Linked DNA regions of Homo sapiens. The protein of the gene in region 4 interacts with the protein of the main gene of each other region in a pairwise test. Each region holds a gene or a part of one and is shown on either strand. Other genes may lie near its edges. The genes, in order: FAM222B, TRIB3, HEMK1 and AKAP8L.

What was found.
Region 1: the proteins of AKAP8L (region 4) and FAM222B interact in binary tests that used the Homo sapiens proteins (3 or more experiments, as listed by UniProt).
Region 2: the proteins of AKAP8L (region 4) and TRIB3 interact in binary tests that used the Homo sapiens proteins (3 or more experiments, as listed by UniProt).
Region 3: the proteins of AKAP8L (region 4) and HEMK1 interact in binary tests that used the Homo sapiens proteins (3 or more experiments, as listed by UniProt).

Annotation. Positions count from the first base shown.
Region 1 is NC_000017.11:28,762,757-28,769,791, forward strand, and holds part of FAM222B (protein FAM222B), read right to left. Parts: intron 3,952-7,035; 5' UTR 3,912-3,951; coding exon 3,830-3,911; intron 1-3,829.
Region 2 is NC_000020.11:383,733-390,767, forward strand, and holds part of TRIB3 (tribbles homolog 3), read left to right. Parts: intron 1-4,278; coding exon 4,279-4,569; intron 4,570-7,035. UniProt on the Homo sapiens protein: Inactive protein kinase which acts as a regulator of the integrated stress response (ISR), a process for adaptation to various stress. Inhibits the transcriptional activity of DDIT3/CHOP and is involved in DDIT3/CHOP-dependent cell death during ER stress.
Region 3 is NC_000003.12:50,593,511-50,596,690, reverse strand, and holds the end of HEMK1 (MTRF1L release factor glutamine methyltransferase), read right to left. Parts: 3' UTR 525-3,180; downstream 1-524. UniProt on the Homo sapiens protein: N5-glutamine methyltransferase responsible for the methylation of the glutamine residue in the universally conserved GGQ motif of the mitochondrial translation release factors MTRF1, MTRF1L, MRPL58/ICT1 and MTRFR.
Region 4 is NC_000019.10:15,415,954-15,423,838, forward strand, and holds the start of AKAP8L (A-kinase anchor protein 8-like), read right to left. Parts: upstream 3,036-7,885; 5' UTR 2,971-3,035; coding exon 2,958-2,970; intron 1-2,957. Other genes in the region: protein Wiz, read right to left, coding at 7,123-7,282. UniProt on the Homo sapiens protein: Could play a role in constitutive transport element (CTE)-mediated gene expression by association with DHX9. Increases CTE-dependent nuclear unspliced mRNA export.

The DNA.
Region 1 (7,035 bases), on a different chromosome or scaffold from region 4:
AGAAACCCCGTCTCTACTAAAAAAATACAAAAAATTAGCCGGGCATGGTGGCAGGTGCCTGTAATCCCAGCTACTCGGGAGGCTGAGGCAAAGAATTGCTTAAACCCGGGAGGCAGGGTTGCAGTGAGCCAAGATCGCACCACTGCACTCCAACCTGGGTGACAGAGTAAGACTCCGTCTCAAAAAAAAAAAAAAAAGTTTTCTCAACACTTATCACAGCCCCCACACAGGCACCCTGACTACTTATTTTCTTCTGTAATGTATTTCTGTAACTACACAGCCAACACAGATACCACAGCTTTGTAAGCGACTTACTTAAATAGCTTATACCAATAGTGTCATTAATAGAGACATAGACAATGTAGGGAATAGGAAATCTGTAGTTTGTAAAGGGTTAGAGAAACCTGTATTCAAGTACTAGCTTCATCATTTGCCCATACTGAGAGCCTGTCATTCCTCAATTATCAACAGGGATGAATTCTGCTCTCCTACTTCACAGAATTACTAAGATCGAGAGTCAATGAACATTTTCACTAAATGAGCATTTTCATTGAAAATGAAACAATGATGGTCAATAGTTACCATTCAAGGATAGCAGATGTGGCTGAGTCTGACCACAGACAACACAAAGAAAACTGACTAAGGAAGCCCCAACTGCAGGACAACCTGGCCTTCAGCCTGAGAGTTAAATGTAACAGAAAGCACTGCTGTCTATTCCAGGATGGACTGGAGGCAATTTTCTGCCTGAAATTCAGTCCTCCCAATGGAGACCTCTCTGTTCATCCTTCTGTTTTGAAGGTCAGAGGGCACAGGTGGCATAGGCAACAGGAACCTCTATCTGTAGGCAGAGAGGCACAGGCAATGTGTTCAAACACAGATTTCAGAGTCTGAGCTGAGTATGGGCCAGTCACAGGACTGTCATGTGGCACTGGCAAGTGACAAACCCTCTCTCTATACCTTATCCTTCTGACAAAGGCAAGAGAGTCTTCCATATGGAATTTTTGAGGAATGGGTGACAACATATGTGAAAATATTCAATATAGTGCCTGGCACATGGTAGCAACTTGACAAATGTTAGCTATTATTTCTATGACTTTATCCAGTCATTGGGTCAATCTGCCATTTCCAGACCCCTCCACTAGGGGGCAGATATGCACATAAAGAAGCAGTAAAAGAAGGTAATTTTGGCATTTGTCCCCAGAGCCCCAGTGTTCTGCCATGGAAGGAAATCAAAGTTGTTATCTGAAGATGGTTTAAGGACCAAGGACCTTTTATCAGCTATTCAAACAGTAAATATTTACAGAGCCACTACTATATTGTGATCCTGAGAAGGGGAAATACAGAGCAGAGGTTTAGGATTAAGAAAGAAAAAATTTCCAGTGGCGCATGCCTGTAATCTGAGCTACTCGAGAGACTAAGGCAGGAGCACTGCTTAAACCCGGGAGATGGAGGTTGCAGTGAACCGAGATTGCGCCACTGCACTCCAGTCTGGGTGACAGAGGGAGACTCCATCTCAAAAAAAAAAAAAAAAAAAAAAAGGGCCGGGCATGGTGGCTCATGCCTGTAATCCCACTACTCAGGAGACTGAGGCGGGAGAATCACTTGAACTTGGGAGGCGGAGGTTGCAGTGAGCCGAGATCGTGCCACTGCACTCCAGCCTGGGTGACAAGAGCAAAAGTCCTCCTCAAAATAATAAAATAAAATAAAGTGGGCTGGGTGTGGTGGCTCACACCTGTAATCCCAGCACTTTGAGAGGCCGAGGCAGGCGGATCACCTGAAGTCGGGAGTTCGAGACCAGCCTGACCAACATGAAGAAACCCTGTCTCTACTGAAAATACAAAATTAGCTGGGCGTGGTGGTGCATGCCTGTAATCTCAGCTACTCAAGAGGCTGAGGTAGAGAATCGCTTGAACCCAGAAGGCGGAGGTTGCGTTGAGCCGAGATCACGCCATTGCACTCCAGCCTAGCAACAAGAGCAAAACTCTATCTAAAAAAAATAATTAAAAAAAAAATAAAAATAATAAAAGTGAACACCAAGATAAAGCTGCCAATTTGCCCGTCCTCCAAATGGCTTTTCCCTTGATATCACATCTTTGGGTAAAGCTGTCAGAGTGTGTTAAGGAACCCAGAACAAAGGAAGCTTCTCTTTGTCATCTTACTGCATGCCTCTAAGTACGTTCCCTCTCCAGTTGTGTCCCCAGAAGCCCAGAAATAGGCACGATGCAGTTAGGATGCTGATTTGGATGACCAGAGAGTATAACATAACACCTTCATCACCCAATCATCACTTATTAAGATAAAGGATGGGTTGAGAAAGCTATAGCAGAGCTTGCCTTATTGTGTCAGGCAACTGTAGAAGGAGGACTACCACCTTCAGCTGTTATTACATAGAGCTGGATTCACTGGCCAAATTCCAGAACTAGCCAGGCTCTGAGTCTTACGCTCTCTCAAAGAAATGAAGTCTAAAGGCTGGACCATTTTTAACTTCTGATGATGTTCTCACATGGCAGGGGCTGGCAAACGACAGCCTGCGTGCCTGGTCCAGTTGCTGTTTTTTTGTAAAAAAGTTTCACTGGAACACAGACACCCTCATTTGTTTATTGTCTGTGGCTGCCGTTGCCCTACAATGCCAGAGTTGAGTAGATGCAACAGAGACCACATGGCCCACAAAGCTTAAATTATTGGCTATCTGGGCTTTACAGAAAGTTTGTTAACCCCTGTCATAAGGGGTTCAGTTAAGGTGCTGAAGCACCTTTCCTATCAAAGGGAAGCCTAGCCACCTCAATGATTTCCCCTTTGTGCTCTGAATGGAAGGTCTATTCCAAATTTAGGGCTGTTTTTACACCTGAAGATACTATACATGGTAATGTGCCAAGAATAGAATATTTTCCTTGCAGATCATGTATTACAGGGAGAGAAGGTAGGAAGGAGTCCGGGAAAATATGAAGTATAAAACCCCAATTCCAGAAAGTTAAGACAAGAATCTAACAGTTTTCAAAGGCTCAATCTTCTGGGAAGTGTATTAGCAGGAAAATGCCCAGAGAGACTGAGAAAGCTAGCTCTCCATCTCTTCTGAGGGCAAAAGCTCCCTGACTTCCTGTGAACTAAAGTCACACTGACTCAGAAGGCAGGTAGCAAAGCCAAAGGGAACTGTCTGTTTCCATGGTAGACTACTAAGAGAGTTCAAAACAAGAGAACAGCATAGTTTATTTCAGAGATATAGTAAGTAATCTGGACTGTGAGTTTTCATTCAATTCCCTATGAAGGTTCAAACTGAAACACCTTTTTTAAGGGTGATATATATATATATATTTCCCCTGAAGCTCTTTATAGTTTTGTTGTTCAACAGAAAGCTATCAGCAACAATTAAAATTGAGATACAATGGGGAATTACAGAATTTAAGCAGACCCCTAATGGCTGGACACAGTGGCTCACACCTGTAATCCCAGCACTTTGGGAGGCCAAGTTAGGGGCATCACCTGAGATCAGGAGTTTGAGACCAGCCTGGCCAACATGGTGAAACCCTATCTCTACTAAAAATAGAAAATTAGCCAGGCATGGTGGTGGGCACCTGTAATCCCAGCTACTCGGGAGGCTGAAGCAAGAGAATTGCTTAACCCGGGAGGGAGAGGTTGCAGTGAGCCAATCAAGATCGCGTCATTGCACTCCAGCCTGGGTGACAAGAGCAAGACTTCGTCTTAAAAAAAAAAAAAAAAGAAAGGTGTCAAAATTCAAGGTCAGTGTACCCCAGATGTGCTTCAAGGACGGCCCAAATGTAGAGACAAAAACAAAGAATCACACATGCTCCATAGGATCCAGATTACTTACATTTCTGAAGTCCAGTGTTCATCTGCGTGTGAGAAAGAAGCTGAAAGGACAGGTCACCTGGCCCTGGTAGACAGGCTAGCATGGCAGATTGGCATCAACACAACATGGGGCAGTGGCTCACACTGTAATGAACAAAAACAAGGTCATGAAACACAAGGCAACTCATTCGAAGAAGAGAGTAGGAACACTGGATATGACTGGCGTGAGGCCCAAGTTTAGACACATAAAGCAATTTAATTAGCAGTGTGTTGGTTGAAAGTATACTTACATCTTTATCTGTGACGACAATTTGCTGTCAAATATCACTATGGTTAAAATGATTTTTCAGTTACCACAGATGTATGGATGGGAGAAATAAAACTGGAAAGCACCTATTCATACAACTGGAAAGTACAGGTGCATTTATAATGTCTCAGTATTCCTGAGGAGAGTGGGCCCTCATAGGGCCTGGCTCAGCCAGCCCATTTATAGGCCTGGTTGGAGACCAGCCAGACATTTTCAGAAGCAGCACATTATATGATTGCAAAGGTACCCAATGTCTGACTTGTGAGCCAGTAATATGAACCCACTTTTATTTTATTTTTTTTGAGACGGAGTTTCACTCTTGTTGCCCAGGCTGGAGTGCCATGGTGCGATCTTGGCTCACTGCAACCTCTGCCTCCCAGGTTCAAGCGATTCTCCTGCTTCAGCCTCCCGAGTAGCTGGGATTAAAGGCACCCGCCACCACGCCTGGCTAATTTCTTTGTATTTTTAGTAGAGACGGGGTTTCACCATGTTGGCCAGGCTGGTCTCGAACTCCTGACCTCAGTTGATCCGCCCACCTCGGCCTCCCAAAGTGCCGGGATTACAGGTGTGAGCCACTGCACCCGGCCATGAACTTACATTTATTTACTTATTTATTTATTTATTTAAGACAGAGTTCTGCTGTCACCTAGGCTGGAGTGCAGTGGTACAATTTTGGCTCACTGCAACCCTTGACTCCTGAGTTCAAGCGATTCTCGTCCCTCAGCCTCTCTAGCAGCTGGGATTACAGGCGCATGCCGCCATGCCCAGCCAATTTTTGTACTTTTAGTAGAGATGGGGTTTCACCATGTTGGTCAGGCTGGTCTCAAACTCCTGACCTCAGGTGGTCCGCCCGCCTCAGCTTCCCAAAGTGCTGTGATTACAGTCATGAGCCACCGCACCCGGCCGAACTCACTTTTAAATGGAAGGAGGAAAGCATCCTAGGAGGCACAATTAACCACTGTTAAAGCAAATTCTGTTTGCAAATTTCTGGGGCTTCACCCTTCCTGACATGCAATTAGACCTCCTGAACTACCTCTCCCACCCCCTCAAAAGAAATGCATTGCTCCCAGACTAAAGCAAGGAGAAAGGCTGCCAGCAGCTCTCTTCGTGCAGGCAATCCTGACATGTCAAGACCGCACGAGTTTCATTAGTGATGTTTACCAACCAGACATACACAGCCCAAGCAAGCAGACATTGATGGGGCCTTCTGTAGCGAAAGAAGCCCTGTCAACAATGCAAGCTCCTTAGGTAACAGAAATACGATTTTCCTAAATAAGTACACGAACTTCTTTTCCCATATTTCAGAAACCAAGGTGGCAAATTATGGCTTTAGATCACAGCAAAAAAGGAGTGGGGGAAAAGCTCAAAAGTTAAAGACGACAAAAATCTCCTTATTTTCTTGAGAGGGCTCTCTCAGGTATATTAAACTACCTTGTCATGATGAGTATCAGAGGGCTCCTGCTTCCAAGACCAGGTAGCTGAAAAGACACTTTGTAAAAGAGGCTGCTCAAACTGTGTCTAAGATAGCAACTGCAGAAAGAACTGAAGATTGAATGCCTTAATGAGAACAGAGCTGTCCAAGAGTTCTGGCACAGCGTCAGTCTTTTTAAGATCTCTGGTGGGTGGGAAAACAGAATGAACACAGTGAGCCAACTTCAGTGCCTCAAGAAAAAAAAAAAGTCTTGGCCGGGCACGGTGGCTCACACCTGTAATCCCAGCACTTTGGGAGGCCGAGGCGGGCAGATTACCTGAGGTCAGGAGTTCGAGAACAGCGTGGCCAACGTGGTGAAACCCTGTCTCTACTAAAAATACAAAATTAGCTGGGCATGGTGGCGCATGCCTGTAGTCCCAGCTACTCAGGAGGCTGAGGCAGGAGAACTGCTTGAACCCAGAAGGCAGAGGTTGCAGTGAGCAGAGGCTGCGCCACTGCACTCCAGCCCGGGCCACAAGAGTAAAACTCTGTCTCAAAAAAAAAAAAAAAAAAAAAAAAGAGAGACTTCTGTTGGGGTCTGGATGCTGATCTTTACATAATAACTTCTCCCTTAAGACCCTAACACAGCTGAAGGCAAACTCCAAGGAAAGGAAGAGAATTAACAAGTACTGGGAGCTAAAACTGTGAAATGGGCTGTATGAGGGGCTTTAGTGATGTTTTCTTAATTGAGTCTCTCAAGCCTTGGAAACAGGTAACAAACTTCACCTGTCATCTCATCATCTCTAGATGGGATTACTATTAGCCTTCTAAATGGTCTGTTCCACGCTTACCCTTTATCACCCAATCTATTCTCTATTCAGCAATGTTAGTTCTTTTTTTTTTTTTTTTTTTTTTTGAGATGGAGTCTTGCTCTGTTCCCCAGCCTGGAGTGCAGTGGTGCGATCTCGGTTCACTGCAACCTCCGCTCCCGGGTTCACGCCATTCTCCTGCCTCAGCCTCCCGAGTAGCTGGGACTACAGGCGCCTGCCACCATGCCCGGATAATTTTTTTTTGTATTTTTAGTAGAGATGGGGTTTCACAGTGTTAGCCAGGATGGTCTCAATCTCCTGACCTCATGATCCGCCCGCCTCGGCCTCCCAAAGTGCTGGGATTACAGGCGTAAGCCACCGTGCCTGGCCCAAACGGGGTTTCACCCCATGTTGGCCAGGATGGTCTCGATCTCTTGACCTCGTGTTCCGCCCGCCTTGGCCTCCCAAAGTGCTGGGATTACAGACGTGAGCCACCGCGCCCGGCCAATTCTGTTAACTGAAAGTCAGAGCAGCTTAAATATCTCTAATGACTTTCCATCTAAGAATAAAATACAAAATCCTAACATGGACCCCAAGGCCCTCCATGATCTATTACTACTGGTTCTCTGACCTCACCTTCTGACCTACCCTGCCCTCTCTTGCTGACTTACTTCCAGCCACCATGGTCTCACCATGGTTTC
Region 2 (7,035 bases), on a different chromosome or scaffold from region 4:
CCCAGCCTGTTTTTCATTTTGATATTGTCAAAATGCACTCCTCAGAGGTGGTACCTTTTATCCTCCCACTAGCACTGTCTTCATTGTTAGTGGCTGCACTGCCACTATTCCACAGTATAAACCCACTTTTCATGACACTGCCAAGACATAAGGGTCTGAAATACTTAACAGTTTTCTTCCACAGTCCCCAAAATACAGGCTTCTCCCCCAGCTCAGGACATGAAGCCATCATCCCTCCTCATTGCAGGAGCCAAAGGCTGGACCTCACCTCGATTCCACCCTCTCCTTCACCCCTCACATCCAATCCATCCAGTCCATCCAGTCTGCCACTGAGTCCTCTTGATCTTCCTCCTATGAGCCCTTAACTTCGCGTCTCCATCTAGCACCCCCTAGTCCAGGTCACCTTCTCCTGCCTGGACTCGTGCTTGTGTGGGCCTCCTAGCTAGTCTCACTGCCCCGTCTTGTACTTTCAAATCCACCCTAAAAGCATGATGTTCCCCTGCTGAAATCCTTCAGTGGCTCCCCACTGCCTTTGGATAATTCCAAATCCTATTGTGTGTTAATTAGGATTAGGCTCAGCTGTAATATAGAAACAGCCACTTAATAGCTAAAATGAAATAGACGTTTTTTTCTTCTTTTTCTCTTTTTTTGAGACAGAGTCTTGCTCTGTCCCCAGGCTGGAGTGCAGTGGCGAGATCTCAGCTCACTACAACCTCTGCCTCCCAGGCTCAAGTGATTCTCCTGCCTCAGCCTCCCGAGTAGCTGGGACTACAGGCATGCACCACCATGCCCACCTAATTTTTGTATGTTTAGTAGAGATGGGGTTTCACCATGTTGGCCAAGATGGTCTCGATCTCCTGACCTTGTGATCTGCCTGCCTCGGCCTCCCAAAGTGCTGGGATTACAGGCATGAGCCACTGCGCCCAGCCTTCAATAGATGTTTATTTCTCTCCTGTGTAAAAAACCTGGAGGTCTGGCCTGACAACTCCATGTGTCAGGGACCTAGGCTCCTCTCTTGCTCTACTGTATGTGGTACTTCTGAAGCCAAGGTAGATGCTGGAGCTCCAGCAGTTAGGTCCACATTCCAGCATACAGGAAAGGAGGAAATGAGGAAGTTGGGCCCTCCCTTTAAGAACACTGTCCTGGGCATTGTACACAACACTTCCACTTGTGTCCTACTAGCCATATGCTGATACAAGGATACAAGGGAGACAGGAAATGCAGTTTATTCTAGGTGTCCTTGTGCTCAGCTGAAAATCTCAGGTTCTAATCCTATGTAAGGAGGGGAGACCTGAAACTGGGGACCACTAACCACCTCTGCCATATGATGCTCGTAGAGCCCTTCACAATAGGGCCTCTACTAACCTCACCTTATTTTTATTTATTTATTTATTTTTGAGACGGAGTTTCACTCTTGTCGCCCAGGCCGGAGTGCAATGACACTATCTCAGCTCACCGCAACCTTTGCCTCCTGGGTTCAAGCAACTCTCCTGCCTCAGACTCCTGAGTAGCTGGGATTACAGGCGTGTGCCACCACGCCCGGCTAATTTTTGTAGTTTTAGTAGAGACGGGGTTTCACCATGTTGGTCAGGCTGGTCTCAAACTCCTGACCTCAGGTGACCTGCCTGCCTCGGCCTCCCAAAGTGCTGGGATTACAGGTGTGAGCCACCACGCCCGGCCTATTTTTTTTTTTTTTTTAACTTTTCACTTTTTTTTGCAGTCACGCTCATTCTCCACCGTGTTCTTGGGGAACATGCAGCATGTTCTTTTGCCTCTTCCCTCACCCCAGAACAGGGGTTACTGGACAGCGGCATCAACTTCACCTGGGAACTGGATAGAAATGCAGATTCAGACCTTCTGAATGAGCTACTTTGGGAGTAGGGCCCAGCAATGTATGTTGAAACAGGCCTCCAGATGATCTCAATGCTTGCTCAAGTTTGAGAACCACTGAACCGCAGTATGACTCTCCGTGTCACCTGGCTAACTCTGCCTCACTTTCAGGTCTCAGTGTAGACACCACCTCTTCTAGGAAGACCTCTCTTGACCCACCAGCCCAGGAGAGAGGCCTCTCTGGGTTCCTAGAGGCCCATGCTTCTCTGTATAGTAGGGCTGATCACACTGTATGTGATTTTTTTTTTTTTTTTTGAGAGAGTCTTTACTCTGTCACCAGGCTGGAGTGCAGTGGCACAAACATGGCTCACTGAAGCCTCAACCTCCCAGGCTCAAGCAATCTTCCCACCTCAGCCTCCCAAGTAGCTGGGACTACAGGCATCCACCACCACACCCAGCTAATTAAAAAAAAATTTTTTTTTGTAGAGACAGGGTCTCACTATGTTGCCCAAGCTGGTCTTGAACTTTTGGGTTCAAGCAGTCTTCCCACCATGGCCTTCCAAAGTGCTAGGATTACAGGTGTGGGCCACTGCACCTAGCCTTGGACGTGATTTTATTACTCATCTGCCCTCCAAATTGACTGGAAGATCCTGACGGCAAGACTGCTGTCTAACCTACTTCTCTTCCTAGCACCCAGTGTTAAGTGAATGAACAAGATCATATCTCTCATCTGTGAATGTACGAGAGCCATGGATTATGAGATTAGTTGATTTTCTTAACTATAATTTTTAGAAACAAGCTGTGTTTTTAAGCAGGTATTTATTTCCTTAAATGTACATTTCTGATTACAAAATACTTTTTTTTGAGACAGAGTCTTGCTCTGTCACCCAGGCTGGAGTGTAGTGGCACAATCTCGGCTCATTACAACCTCTGCCTCCTGGGTTCAAGCGATTCTCCTGCCTCAGCCTTCCCAGTAGCTGGGATTACAGGTATGCACCACCACGCCCGGCTAATTTTTTTTTTCTCCCGTGACGGAGTCTTGTTCTGTTGGCCAGGCTGAAGTGCAGTGGTGTGATCTCAGCTCACTGCAACCTCCACCTCCCGGGTTCAAGTGATTCTCCTGTCTCAGCCTCCCAAGTAGCTGGGATTACAGGCCCACGCCACCACGCCTGGCTAATTTTTCTATTTTTAGTAGAGATGGGGTTTCACCATGTTGGCCAGGCTGGTCTCAAACTCCTGACCTCATGATCCACCACCTTGGCCTCCCAAAGTGCTGCCGTGGGCTGCACTTTGGCATTGCCTTGGTCACGTGCTGCTACCTGGGATTACAGGCATAAGCCACTGCGCCTGGCCTAATTTTTGTATTTTTTAGTAGAGACAGGGTTTCACCATGTTGGCCAGGCTGGTCTTGAACTCCCAGCCTCATGATTCGCCCACCTTGGCCTCCCAAAGTGCTGGGATTACAGGCGTGAGCCACCACGCCTGGCCAGGAAATACATTTACATGGCTCAAATTCAAAACTATAAAAGTCGGCCAAACATGGTGACTCACATCTGTAATCCTAACACTTTGGGAGGCTGAGGCAGGAGGATTGCTTGAGCTCAGGTGAGACCAGCCTAGGCAATGTAGGGAGACCCCCATCTCTACAAAGAATAAAAAAAAATTAGTCAGGCATCATAGTGCACACCTGTAGTCCCAGCTACTTGGGAGGCTGAGGTGGAAGAATCACCTGAACCCTGAGGTCGAGGCTGCAAGTGAACTGTAATAGTAAGAGTCTCCTCCTAATCTTGTGCATCCTTTCAGAGAGAGAGATGATAGATATTCAAACAAATACATACATATATATAACATATTTATATATATTCTTTTTAACATAAAAGTATAGCCAGGTGTGGTGGTTCACTACTAGAGTCCCAGCTACTTAGGAAGCTGAGGTGGGAGGTTCACTTGAGGCCACGAGTTTGAGACCAGCGTGGGCAACATCTCTTGGGGAAAAAAAAAAAAAAACCCACCATAAAAGCATTCTATAACACGTAATTCTGTGTTTGTCTTTCTTCTCTTAATACATCTTGGAGATCAGTACGCATCAGTATATAGAGAGCTTCCTTGTCCTTTTTCAGGGCTGTGTAGTATTCTGCTGTATGGCTATACCATGATGTTTTCACTAGCTTTCTACTGCCTGACATTTGGGATATTTCCTGCTTTTGCTATTGGACACAAGGCTCTGATGAACAGCCTTTACTATATTTAATTTTTTTGTGAGAAGTTTAACTGGAAGATAAATTCCCAGAAGTGGGGCACCCAGTTAAGGATATGTGACTTTGTCATTTTAACACACACTGCCAGATCACCCCCTATAAATGTTGTGCCACGTATCCTCCCACCAGCAGGGGAAAGGAGGGGCCACCAAGCAGTCTCACTTTAGTGCTTTTCTCTCCTTTTTACCAGATGCGAGCCACCCCTCTGGCTGCTCCTGCGGGTTCCCTGTCCAGGAAGAAGCGGTTGGAGTTGGATGACAACTTAGATACCGAGCGTCCCGTCCAGAAACGAGCTCGAAGTGGGCCCCAGCCCAGACTGCCCCCCTGCCTGTTGCCCCTGAGCCCACCTACTGCTCCAGATCGTGCAACTGCTGTGGCCACTGCCTCCCGTCTTGGGCCCTATGTCCTCCTGGAGCCCGAGGAGGGCGGGCGGGCCTACCAGGCCCTGCACTGCCCTACAGGCACTGAGTATACCTGCAAGGTACGTGCCCATGGGCGGCTGTCCCCCAGCACCACAGGAGGCCTGGGAAGGAGGCCTCCAAAGGATTGCCAGGGTGCAGAGGGGTCCTTATGTTCATTCATTCTTGTGTTTGTTTAGTGGGGAAGCATCCAGGGAGCCCCTGCTGGACTGATACTAGAGAGGTAAACCAGAGGTCGTCCCAGTCCTGGGGGAGTTCACAGCTTAGGCCCTACAGTGTGATAAATGCTGCAGGGGTAGAACTTAGGGATCATGGGCGCAGAAAAGGCCGAGCAGAAGTTAGCCAGGTAGAAGTGGGAGATGGGAGTTGCAGGCAGGGGGAACAGCTGTTCAAAGGCCTAGAAAAGTGAGGGGATAGCACTTTAGAGAATGAAAAGGACTTCTCTGTGGCCAGAGTGGAGAGGATGTGCAGAAAGGGGCAGGAGATGAAGGTTGGCAGCAGCTGGTCATGAAGGTGTTAACAAGGGGCCTCCACTGGGCTGTGCGGAGCTACTGAAGATGTTTGCACAAGAGAAGGGTAGGGCATGGTAGACATCAAAACTCCTGGGACCTCGGAGGTGATCGAGCCTAACCTGGGGCCATTTTACAGATAGGAAGACTGAGATGAAGACAGGAGAAGGGCCATGCGTGAAGTCACATAGCACTGGGCCTGGCTCCTGGGGTAAACTAAGGGGTAGAAAAGTCTGAGGATTCCTGGCAGAAACCAGGAAATGGACAGGGTCAAGGCCCCTGAGGGTCAGCCCATGCAGGACACTGACAAGTGACAGTCCAAGAAGACAGAGATGAGAATAAAAAGTGTAACAATAGGTATTCACTGTGCACCAGGTACTATGATGATTGCTTAGTGTGCACAATCTCTTTTAATCTTGACACAACCAATGAGGTGGTTTCTATCATTGTGCCCCTTTTATAGATAGAGGACACTGAGACTCAGAAAGCCATGGTTACTTGCCACATGACAGAGCCAGGTGGTATCAGAGCTGGGATTGGGCCCAGGAGGCTGAGCCCAGAGAGTCCTGTGCCCGTGCTAGGATAAGCGTTTCACACAATCAGGGCAGGCTGCCCTGGCAGGCAAGCATAAGGAAGATAAGGGGGACCTGGAAACCCAAGGGAGAGTAGCGGGGGCCTGGGTCCCTTGGGAATGCACAGAGAAGCAGAAGGACTTAAGCCTCCTCCTGGGGCAGCAGCAGAGCTTTGCTCTGTTGACGGAGATGCAGTGAACAGCGGGGCAGATCCAGACAGGGTCCAGCCCCTAGCTTCACCTGGCCTCTTGTGCACAGATCTCCAGCGCCCTTACCAGGTGCCCTAAGGAGCCCAGAACTCTGGGTCCCCTTCCTGCAGCATCACAGGCTCTTTTCCACTCCCGCTGGGGAGGTGAGTCCATGATAAGAGGAATAACCCAAGCAGGCTCAGGAGAGAAGCGCCATGCGTTCACAGGGCCCTGATTCTCAAGAAACATTTGGGAAAATCCACTGGAACATACTCACCCCTATGCCAATGTGCACCATGGGTGCTGAATGGTCATTTCCACACTTCCTCAGCTTTTCTGGTCAGTGTGTAGAAAGATCAAAATCTTGTCTTTGTAAATGATCAACTTATTCATTAATTCAACACAACTTCATTGAGCACCCGTATTTGCCATGTACCATGCTGTGGTTAAAAAACAAAGTTCTGTTCTCATCAAGCTGACGTTCTAGTGGGAGATACAGACACTAAACAAGCGAATAAGTAAAATACGTGTCAGGTGGCCGGGCGCGGTGGCTCACACCTGTAATCCCAGCACTTTGGGAGGCCGAGGTAGGCAGATCACCTGAAGTCAGGAGTTCGAGACTATCCTGGCCAACATGGTGAAACCTTGTTTCTATTAAAAATACAAAAAATTAGCCGGGCATGGTGGCAGGGGCCTGTAATCCCAGCTACTCGAGAGGCTGAGGCAGGAGAATCTCTTGAACCTGGGAGGTGGAGGTTGCAGTGAGCCGAGATCACACCACTGCACTCCAGCCTGGGCAACAAGAGCAAAACTCCGTCTCAAAAAAACAAAAAACAAACAGGAAAACCCTTATTCCAGCATCTTTCTTGGTTCCTTTGCAATGCTTATCAGCATTTGTCAATATTTGGTTTCTGGGCATGTTTGCATGGCCTCCCAGTGGGCACCGGAGAGCAGAGCCCATGGCTGTCAGTCTAGCTGGACATGTGGCTGGCCCGTGCAGGCCCAGGGCCAGCATACTGAATGAATGAAAGCGTGGGTGGGCAAAGAGGACGGGAGCTGTGACGGTGATGAGCATCAGGTGCCTTCTGCATCATCCGCCCTTCCGGATTCCTCCTGCTTTGTGGGTTATTTTTCTGTTTGGGTGACCTGTTACTTTTCAGTTATCCGATGTTTGAGGCCATATAGCGTAGCAGTTAAGAGCACAGACAAAAGGCCGGGTGCAGTGGCTCACACCTGTAATCCCAGCCCTTTGGAAGGCT
Region 3 (3,180 bases), on a different chromosome or scaffold from region 4:
TTTTATGAAAAGAAATCTTAGCAGAGTGTGGTGGCTCACACTTGTAATCCCAGCACTTTGGGAGGCCAAAGTGGGAGGATCGCTTGAGTCCATGAGTTTGAGACCAATCTGGGCAACATAGTGAGACCCTTTCTCTACAAAAAATATTTTAAAAATTAGCCACACATGGCAGTGCATGTCTGTAGTTCAGCTACTTGGGAGGCTGAGGCCAAAGGATCACTTAAGCCCAGGATTTCGAGGCTGCAGTGAGCCATGATTGTGCCACTACACTCCAGCCTGGGTGACAGAGCAAAACTCTTCTCAAAAAGAAACAGAGAGAAGAAAAGAAATCTTCACTATTCACAGTTAAATTCTCTGTGAAGGCTGAAGTAGTGTTTGCTCTGCAGTTAGCAAAAGCACAACCTCCATGCATTGCCCTAGAACCTGAACGGTGCTATCATGACAGTGGGTGTTTGGGTTTGTCTCACACTGCATCAGCACTGAGTGTCAAATCAGTGGTTTGACAAAATGGGAATGCACATGAATTCTTTAATCAATTTATTGGAAATTGATCACTTGTATGTTTGTGATACACTCTAAGGAACAGGCCACAGGCAGATTAGAAGAGAGTGGTAACAGACAAAGCACAATTTCCAGTAAGTGATATTGGAGCAATTTGGAAGGAAAAAAAAGTGCAACGTCTACCTCACACCTTCCACCATAAATTCTAGATGGACCAAATATTAAACATTAAAAATGAAATTCTAAGAGTCCTTTAGAGCACCTGCCCTGGAGTCCCAGCAGTATCAATCCCAGGTGTGGAAACCTCTTCCTTTGCGTGGCTCCCCTGCGTTGTTTGCAGGAGAGGTCTGGAGGAAAGAGAGTCACCCCAGAAATACATCGATGCCTATATAGTGTTGTCTCTCTATCTTGGGTTTTTTCCTGCAGAAACCACTCTGAGACAAGCATCCAAATGCAAATAGATTATTTGGGAAGTAATGCCAAGAAGCACCAGTAAGGTATTGAGAGACAATTCCCCATGGTTCTCTCCTATTTCTGCACACTTGCCAGTAGAGGCACTGGTTGCCCTTGTTCTAAATAATCTTTACAAGGGTGATTATTATAGTGAGTAACCTTAGAAGATAGAGGTAGTATCTCCCTCCAGAGCAAAAGGCAGATTTTATTGTCCCGTATACTAAAGATAACATCTCCCACCTGGGCAGGTTTGCTTGCAGCTTATTATAAAAGACGTGGGTCCCCTAAATTCAGCATGCAGTTTCTCCACCGTAGTGCAACCCAATGCATATGCAGGCATCACCGGGCCATCATCACATCACTCTGTAGGAACTGCGGTTCAGGGAAGTGGTGCAAGAAAATGCTTTTACTCTGTCTACTGCCGTTACTGTAAACAATAATCTGTTGTCTGTTTCTGAACCCAGAGTTCTGTGCCTTCTGCCATGATCCTTGAGAATATGATAGACTATGATAGACTAACTTGTTTGCTTCAAAGTCGGATAAGCCGGGCGCGGTGGCTCACTCCTGTAATCCCAGCACTTTGGGAGGCCGAGGTGGGCAGACCATGAGGTCAAGAGATTGAGACCATCCTGGCCAACATGGTGAAACCCTGTTTCTACTAAAAATACAAAATAGCTGGGTGTGGTGGTGCGCACCTGTAGTCCCAGTACTCGGGAGCCTGAGGCAGGAGAATCGTTTGAACCTGGGAGGCAGAGGTTGCAGTAAGCCAAGATCACGCCACTGCACTCCAGCCTGGCAACAGAATGAGACTCTGTCTCAAAAAAAAAAAAAGAAAGTCGGATAAAATCTCAGCCTTCACACTTATTGATATAAAATGGGAGAGGGGGTGAGACAGGGAAGGAAAGGAAGCCAAAGGAGGTAGGTGGGTTTATGAGTGGGTTCCTTCTGTAGGCAACTGAGGCTCAGTCTTCAGTTGGGAGCTGGCAGAAAACACAAGCCACGGTTGTCCCACCCAAGGGGTGAGGGAGCTGGGCATGTGTCTACCAACTCTCTGTCTTCCTTGGTTTCAGGCTGCTCCAGGGGATTAGCTCTCAGGCACTTTTGGTTACTTACCCACCTGGCCTCTGCAGCAGAGAAAACCTCAGCTCACCATTGCAACTACTCTGTGGGAACTTGAGTGAGAGGGGATGTGAACTGCTTGGACCCCACCAGACTGTGATGGGGGCCTGCCTGAATAGTGCCCATTCCTTGTGCCTGGCACAGTGCCAGCAGATGGTGACTGAATGCATGCCCCATGGCCTAAGGATAAGGATCTATTTGCCTGCCTGTATCCTCCACCAGGCCATGAACTCCTTATGAGTAGGGACCGTGTCAATTTTTCTTTGGTACCACAGTATGACAGTGTAGTCCTGGCAATCAGCTCACTGAAGGTCTGTTGCATGAATGAAAGATGAAAAAAAAAGCCTCTAAAATAAACAAAAAATCAGAGTCAGCCAGAACTAGACTGAACCATTTTTAAGTAGAAAAGGGCCATCTATCCAAAATCAATAGCAAGTGCACTTGACAGGGAGGGACCAGAGGCACCCCAAGTGAGAAACAATATACAAATGCTCTAGTCGTTACAGTTTTTCAATATTGTATTGAAGGTCTCAGCCAAGCTATTAAACAAGGAAAATAAATAAGAGCCATAAGTATTAAAAAGGAAAAGACAGGCCGGGTGTGGTGGCTCAGGCCTGTAATCCCAGCATTTTGGGAGGCCGAGGTGGCAGATCACTTGAGGTCAGGAGTTCGAGACCAGCCTGGCCAACATGGCAAAACCCCGTCTCTACTGAAAATACAAAAAAAAAATTAGCCTGGCATGGTGGTGGACGCCTGTAATCCCAGCTACTCGGGAGGCTGAGCCAAGAGAATCGCTTGAACCTGGGAGATCGCGCCACTGCACTCCAGTCTGGGCAACAGAGTGGCACTTTGTCTCAAAAAAAAAAAAAAGAAAGAAAGGAAAAGACAAATTTGTCATTGTCATTATTTTCAGTGGTAAAATGTCAATGTAGAAAATCCAAGAGAAGCAACAACAAGCACATCTTGTAAGAGAAAACAAAAAGGTGTCCAGTTATAAGATAAACCCCTGTAAATTAATGGCTTGCCCATGCAGCAGCAAGAACCAGTTAGGCCATCTCTCTGTATAATACATAACAAGAAAAACTGTAACATCTGAGACTAGATAAG
Region 4 (7,885 bases):
ATGGCTCACTGCAGCCTCAACCTCGCAGAGCTAACTTTTTTATTTTTAATTTTTATAGAGAAAGGGTCTTGCTATGTTGCCCAGGCTCATCTCAAACTCCTGGCCTCAAGCAATCTTCCTGCCTCGGCCTCCCAAAGTGTTGTGATTACAAGTGTGAGCCACCGTGCCTGATCTAAAAAAAAAAAAGAGTCTTATTTGAAGGAGTAACACAGAGTACCAAAAATTAAAAGATAACTGGAATTAGGTTAGGTTGCCTTCAATCTTTATTATCTGAGCCAAGAGTAGGGTGACAACCATCCTCAAAGATGGTCTCCATTCCTGCCTCTTAACGTTATGTAGATCCCTCCCAACTAATAGAGCTAGCCAGTGCAACCAATAAGATTTATGAAAATGACTGAGTGTGACTTCTGGGATTTTCGCCTTGCTCTTTCTGGGATCATTCAGTCTGGAGAAAACCAGCCACCATGTTGTGAGGATACTCCAGCAGCCAGCCCTAGGGAGAGATCCATGGGGCCAAGAATTATTGGCCAGCATCAGCCTGCCAGGCATGGGAGTTTAAGTCACCTTGGAGGTGGGACCTCCAGCCTCAGTCAGGCTTTCAGATGACTCTAGTCCACATAGAGATCCTAAATGTAACCTCATGATATTCCAAGCTAGAACCACCCAGTGAAATCACCTATCCATTCCAAACATAAAGAAACTGTGTGAGACAATAAATGTTTCTATGACAAGTACAGTAGCATTTCAGACCTTTGTTTGAGGGCCTGATTCTGGATATTTCTGTGCTGTTTACCACTGCTCTCCTCTTCCCCTCTCAGTGCTAGAGATGCAGCTTCCTTTCCCACGTATAAATAAGGTAACAGGGTTCAAAAGCAGGGCGAGTTAATAAAAAGATTTATCAGTCACCTTTTATGTTTAATAATGCTAACATTTGCTTCGAGGCCTCTAGGACTTACCCTTAAAGCTATTAGTTGTCTGAAATGTGAATTAAAATGCCTTTGACTTTAGTGCCCTACTTCTTAAATAAGGGGAAGACTCACATTGTAAATTACTGTGGTTTTCAGTTTATCAAGATAAAGGAAAAACTAATCATTACTTTTTTAGCTTGGCTATCTCAGTGCCCACCCAAACCCAGAACTACAGCCTACAAGACCTAGAGCTGGAATTCAGGTTTGGTCATTAGTGACCTTGTATCTCAGTTTCCTCATCTATTAAAAAAAAGAGCTCCATTACTCAGCTACCCCACAGCACCCAACCATTCATCTTCTGGTTTCTTCAAGAGTCCTGTTTTTAAAAACCATGAAACTGTCTTCCAGTTCTTGGTAAGACTTGGTGAGAATTATATTCCAATCCCAGGGATGTCAGTAACAACCCCATAGTCTTTCCTCCTGAACTAGGAAAGCTACAGAAAGGCTCTGGCAGAGCTGCCCAACTTGGGCACTACTGATGTTTGACGCCAGATACTTCTTTGCGGTAGGTGTCATTGTGTATACCGTAGCAGGGCAGCATCCCAAACCTCCATCCACTAGATACCAGCAGCACTCCCACTCCCATATGTGACAACCAAAAATGTCTCCAGACATTGCCAGATGTCATCTGGGGCAGAATCACCCCTGGATGAGAACCCACTGGGCTGGGGGATGGTTGCTAGAAAAACTGGGGTTCTTGGAAAGCTCCTGACCTGGCAGCCAGGGTAGAGGGGACTGGCACTACCTTCTTGCCTATGCCAACATAAAGTGGTCTACAAAGGAGCCCCACAGACTCACGTTGCATTCTCAGTTCTCAAAATTCCAAGTAGAATGCAGGTTACCTGGCAACCACACACGCTCAAGCCTATAATACCCTCACCAAACAGGGAGGCCTAGTGTAAGTCTCCTGGCCGAGAAGCCTCATCAGTCACTGCCAAGGCAAACCCAGGAGGCCTTGGCAATTCACCCAGTGATGATTTACAGTCGCCCAAGCATATTGCGGGGGGCGGAGAGGGGCTCTCGGATCTGTCACCCACTCTCCCTTTCAAATCCCATTGGCCTCCCACTGGCCTCCCTGGCTGATCTTCTAACAAGCCAGGCAGTTCCTGCCCGTAAGCCTTTTACAGCAAAAGCTCCCTGGGCCAGATATCTTTATTCGCTCCCTCCATTTAGGTCTCTGCTCAAATGTCACCTCTTTACAGAAGGCTCCAACCACTCCACGTAGTGGAGCGACCCCCGCACGGTACTGACCACCCTAAAATATATCCTACACTCGCTTATTTGCCTATTAAGATCCTCGCCTCTAAGCTGCTTGAGGAATTCTTGTCTGTATTCCCAATACCCAGTCTGTACCGGACACGGTTCATTTGACAGACGCAGAGGGAATTAACATGGAACCTTGTCATTCCTTGCAGTTCAGCCCCTAGGGGCCCAAGGCTCCCCGCTCAGCCCAAACCCTTCCAATATTTACTTATCCCCCTAGGGCCTGGCGCCTTTCCCAGTTCTGAAATAGACAAAAGGGGGTGGTGGGTGGGATCGGGATGGGGGTGTAGAGCTGCGGCGTTTTTGCAGAGAAACTGCGCGGGGGAGGACGCGACAATGGCGACGGCAGCCGAGCCTGCTGCCTGCTCGCAAGGACCAAGGCCTGAGAAAGGGAAACCTAAGGCGTCGAGGTCCAGGAGCGCAGGCCAGGGACGGAGGTGGTGGGGGCGGAGACCTCGTGCGCTGAGGCCCGGACCCACGGACACAGGCGACAGAAGCCAAGACATCAGGCGGCCGGGAGCCGGGACGCCGGCTGCAGACACAGAGAGCTGAGGCAACGAGGCGTGAGGGCAGCGACCCTGAGGCGACGGGCCAGCGGCGCCATTTTGTGACCGCAGGGAAGGCAGTGACGGGGCCCCAGGGGAGGTGCGGGCAAGCCTGGTGCGGCATCCGCACGTCCCTGTCCCATCCCCCACGCAGAGCCCGACCCCACCCTGCCAGGCCCACCTGTGTAGCTCATGGTGGCGGGCAACACAACATCCGACGACGCCGGCTTCTGCTGCTCTGAACATCCGACGCTGCGATAGCTGCTGCTAACCACAGGGTCCCCTCCACACACACCCGAGCCCCGCCTCCCGACCGCATTGGCTCATACCGGCCTCGGCTTCACGTCTATTGGAAGGAACCGCTGTCTATCTCTATGCCTCCTCATATCAGTGGCTGGAAGCTGCTGGCAATCTCGTGAGAGCCCCGCCTTGTCCCCGCCTTCTGTTATTCTAAGGCCTCAGTGATTGGCCTACAGAAGCCGGCAGAGAGGCGGAGTCCTATAGAATTTGAGGGGGCGGAGCTGTGCACTACGGAAAGGCCCAAGGCCCAAGCATGGTCGGGCTGGAGGAGCGCCCGTACCCTGGAGACCCGCCAGAGGGAGTCGGGTCTACGGCTCAGGGCAGGGCTGGGATGCCAACTCCGCCACCGAGGTGCTGGGTAGGGGACCTAGCTAAGTCTCTCAAATTCTCTGGCCTTCGGCTCCAAAACAAGCATAGCAAAGCCATGTTGAGAAGAGAAAATTAAAACAGCACCAAACAAGATGCTGGACACACGTTTCAACATTACGTGACAAAGTGTGTGTAAAGAAATCATTCTGGTGCCAGTGCACTGAATAAATGTGATTAATCGTAACAAAACGATAATATATTTATATGGCATATGCTTATATGTGTAATAATTCCGTTTGTATTGTGTGTCATTCGAATGCTCCTTCAAACCTGCAAAAAGCTTTTAATCCTCACTTAAAACTGAAGCTTGGAACTCATGATTTGCTCAAGGTCCTTGACAGTTACGTGTTAAAATGGGAGCTTTGCTTCTAAAACCCTCCTGATTCACTCTGGGCTCGAGAGATCCTGCAATAGTGCAGCCGGGCACCAGTCATGTCCTCAGTCTGTTTCCTGGGCATATGGAAACCCTGCCAGGGACAACTCATAATTTCTAGAGATGACAGAGCTGCACCGAAGAGTACTTAACACGTGTGTTTGTGAAAACTCATTAAGCTGCGCAATTACGACTTCTACGCTTCGTGTGTTTTAAAACTTTTTTTAAGGTATGCTGTTTCTTTTTGATATTGTTGATTTCTTTAGGTGTAATAGTGGCATTTACAACGTTGAGAGAAACATACTGAAATACTAAGAAGTTAACTGATCTTATGGCCAGGATGTGCTTCACACAATTCAGACAGGTAGAGAGAGGAGGAGGAAGCAAGGAGCTATAAGATAAATCTCTGACAGCTGAAGACATTGGTCATGGGTTGGTGATGGATAGATGAGAGTCCATTTTACTGTTTGCTCTACTTTTGTATAGTTGGAATTCTCCATGATAAACTGTTTTAATAAAACTCCCCCCACCCAAATGAGGCTTCTGCAGAACTTGCTGCCATACGGAACAAAGCCACTTCTGATGTGTTAAGTGAGCAAACTCCAAACATGAAGCAGAGATCTGACGGATAAGCACTCTGGCTTCGGGGTTCATCTCCCCATCAGCCTCAGGGATGCCTGCCTGTCTTCCAAACCAAGGCAGGGCCCCAGGACACGTCTTCTGCGCCCTGCAGGTTCGTTCCTTCATCGCACTTGCCACAGTCATCATTGTACCGATTTGATTTCGTTCACATCCAACACCCTCAGAGACCACGGCTCAAAAGCTGAGACTTTGCTGCCTGAGGTGTATTGAAGTGGCTTGAGCAGAGAAGAGCAATGCTCAGAAAGTTTTAGGAAAACATCCCCCTGCAAGAACTGGAGGTGACTCTTCCAAGGACACACATGACCCTCACTTCACTGCATGATTGGTGGGGAGGAACTTGCCATATGACTTTATAAGCTCTTGTATCATTTGACTGTTTTTTGTCACATCTAGCCTATACCACTTTTATATTTCAAAAACTGACTTACGGGCCGGGCATAGTGGCTCACGCCTGTAATCCCAGCACTTTGGGAGGCTGATCACTTGAGCTCAGGAGTTCAAGACCAGCCCGGGCAACATGGTGAAACCCCCGTCTCTACAAAAATTACAGATATAAGCCAGGGGTGGTGGTGCATGCCTGTGATCCCAGCTACCTGGATGGCTGAGGCAGGAGAATCACTTGAACCCAGGAGGCAGAGACTGCAGCGAGCCGAGGTCCCTACACTGCACTCCAGCTTGGGCAACAAAATGAGACCCTGTCTCAAAAAATAAAATAAAAAAATAAAAACTGACTTATGAAAAGTTGAAAGAGGAAGAAACACCTTTGAGTCAGCTCACAAGATGCTCTCCCTGCTTCCTAAGTCCTGGATACATCCACCCACCCACAGCACAGGATGGAGAGAAGTGGTTGCGGCCTTCTGCCACCAGGCGAGATGTGCGTCCTGACCCCACAGGAGCAGACGTGTGGGCCAAGACCACCCTTGTGGGCGTTATTGCAGCCTGTTAATCCCTCCTTCCCAGGAAGGGGTATGGTGGGAGGGCCCAGAAAGCAGGGCTGGGGGTAGAGGTGGCCCCTTCTGTCCACACGCCATGAGGTCGTTCCCACTCTCCAGCACTTGACCGTTTAGTAAAAACGATGAGCTGAAAAACCACATGCAATAAACAAGAAGGAGCAGCCAACAAAATCTCTTAAAATCTCAGAAATGTTCAATAAACATTTGCAGAGCGAGAAAATAAATAACATCGCAAAGGAGCCAGTGGCTCCTCTTTTCCCCGCATGTTCCTTGGGTCAGGGGTGCATGTGTCTCACTAGAAGTCACATGTATTAAAAGCAGGTGAGTTCCAGCTCTCTACAACCCCACTGGCCCCCACCCAAATGCTCCCAACGGGTCCCTGACACCCTCGCTGGTAGCTCCTGCCTTTGATAAGCTCCTCTAGCCTCAACTGCTTCTTGATCCTGGCTCCCTTCCCAGACAGGCTGCCCAGAACCCTGGTTCATCTGCTCACTGGAGCCGCTTTGCCAGCCAGCCAGAGACCCCCTCCCAGCCATGGCCTAAAGAGCCAACAGCTGGGAACTTGGGCTCATCCCCAGCTGCGTCTGGTCGGCTTGGCGGCCAACTGGAAAACCCAGGGCCTCCATGGCGCTCTGGACAGAGGAGGCCCCGATCCCAGCCCCGGCTGCCAGCCAATGCCAGCCTGTCCACTTGACAGAAAAACACACGCTGGCCGCCTGCCCCAGGGTGTTTCCAGAAGAGAAATTTAATCTAATTTACATACTTCTAGGTACATCGATAACCAAAATGTGGCCACTGAAAAAAGTTAAAAGGTCAATCAGCTCCTGGCTTCTAGCTGGCCCAGGATTGCAAAATAAAAAGATCCACGTTCCTTATTCTCTACACAAAACGCGTTTTTAAAAAAGTGAAAGGTCTAGGGAGCTATACATAGAAAGCAACAGTGAAAAGGGAGAGGGAGCAGGAGTGGGGGAGGAGAGTCCCACCCCCCAACCCCACCCTCCAGGGCCCCAGAGCCCCTGAGGCTCTTTGGGGGGCCTTGACATGGCAGGAGGCAGCTGTCAGCTCTGAGCTCTTCCCAGCTGGGAAGGCCCCTCTCGGGGGCAGCCAACAAGGATTTCCGTGGCATTGTGGGCTCAGTGGGGGGCTCCCAGGCCCCAGCAGGCCCCACAGAGGGAGCGTGGCTTCCCCTGAGCAAGCACCGTGGCATGATGTGGTCGTTCAACCCAGGAACTGGGGGTCCGGGGCAGGTCCCGGGTCTCACGAGGTGCGTGTTGTGTGTGTTCGCATGTACATGTGTGTGAGAGGATATTCATGGGGGAGAGAGGGAACCAGAACAGGGGTCTTTGGGGTCTTTGCAAATGGCCACGGATGGCAGACATCGCCCTGCCTGGCTGCTAGACGGGGGAGTGCTGTCCTCCCCTGTGACCAGACCGGCTGCCATCAGAGACCTGGCTGCTGCCCCTGCTGGACCAGGTGGGCATGGGCTGAAGGAAGACACCCTGTGGCCCCAGAGTCCTCGGGCTGGGGGAAGGGCAGCTAGCTGGCTCCCGGCGCCCTGGCTGTAGTGTGCCCGGCCCCCAAGGGGCGCCGGTTTGAGGTTTTGGCTTGCTCCTTTGGAAACGGAAAGAAAGAGGAAGAGGGACAAGGACACAGAGGAGGAAGAAGAGGAGACAGAGGTGGCACGAGAGGGGATCTGGAATGCTTTTGTGTTAGGGAGCCTCTGCCGCCGCTGTCTGTGCCTGCGGGGCCTGGGACTCCTCAGGTGGGGGGTCCGCTTTGGAGAAGTTCATCTCCAGGATGTGCCGCTGTAAGTGCCGCACCCACTCTTCCTGGATGGAGAGGGGGCCCTGGAATTCCACCTCACAGAACCTGCATGGGGGAACAGAGAGAGGGAGTGGCCAGTGCTGTGAGGAGAGGCGGAAGCATAGCCTTGCCAGCATCCCTGGGCACACCTGCTGCTACTCAGTGTGGACAGAGCCAGCCCAGGAGGCGGGGGAAGAGGGACCCAGAAGTCAGGCGTTTCCCATGGACAGCCACCTCCACTCACCATGGGGTCATGGCAGGGTCTCACAGAGACCCCTGCCTCTGTGCTCAGAAGTCACTGGTGCCAGGTAAGGGCTACTGGCTTCCAGGTACCCCTGCCATCTGGCAGATACATAGAATCTGAGACAGTAGAGGGCACAGAGAAGCAAATCCTACCCAACGCACCAAGCCCCCCACCTCCTCCTGTCTTCCTGGCACCTAAAAAGGCCTCACAGCACAGAGGCCTGGAGCCCAAGCTCCATGGCTCAAGACGTGGCTTTGACTCTGACTTCTGACTTGGCCTGTATGGCCTCAGGCAAGTCACCTCACGTCTCAGAGTCCCAGTTCGCTGCTCTTCAATGTACTTGTGGACTTTGGTAAGAATTAACTAAGATCTACTTTTTTCTTGAGCCAGACACTAGTTGAGTGCTTACTTACCATGTGCCAGGC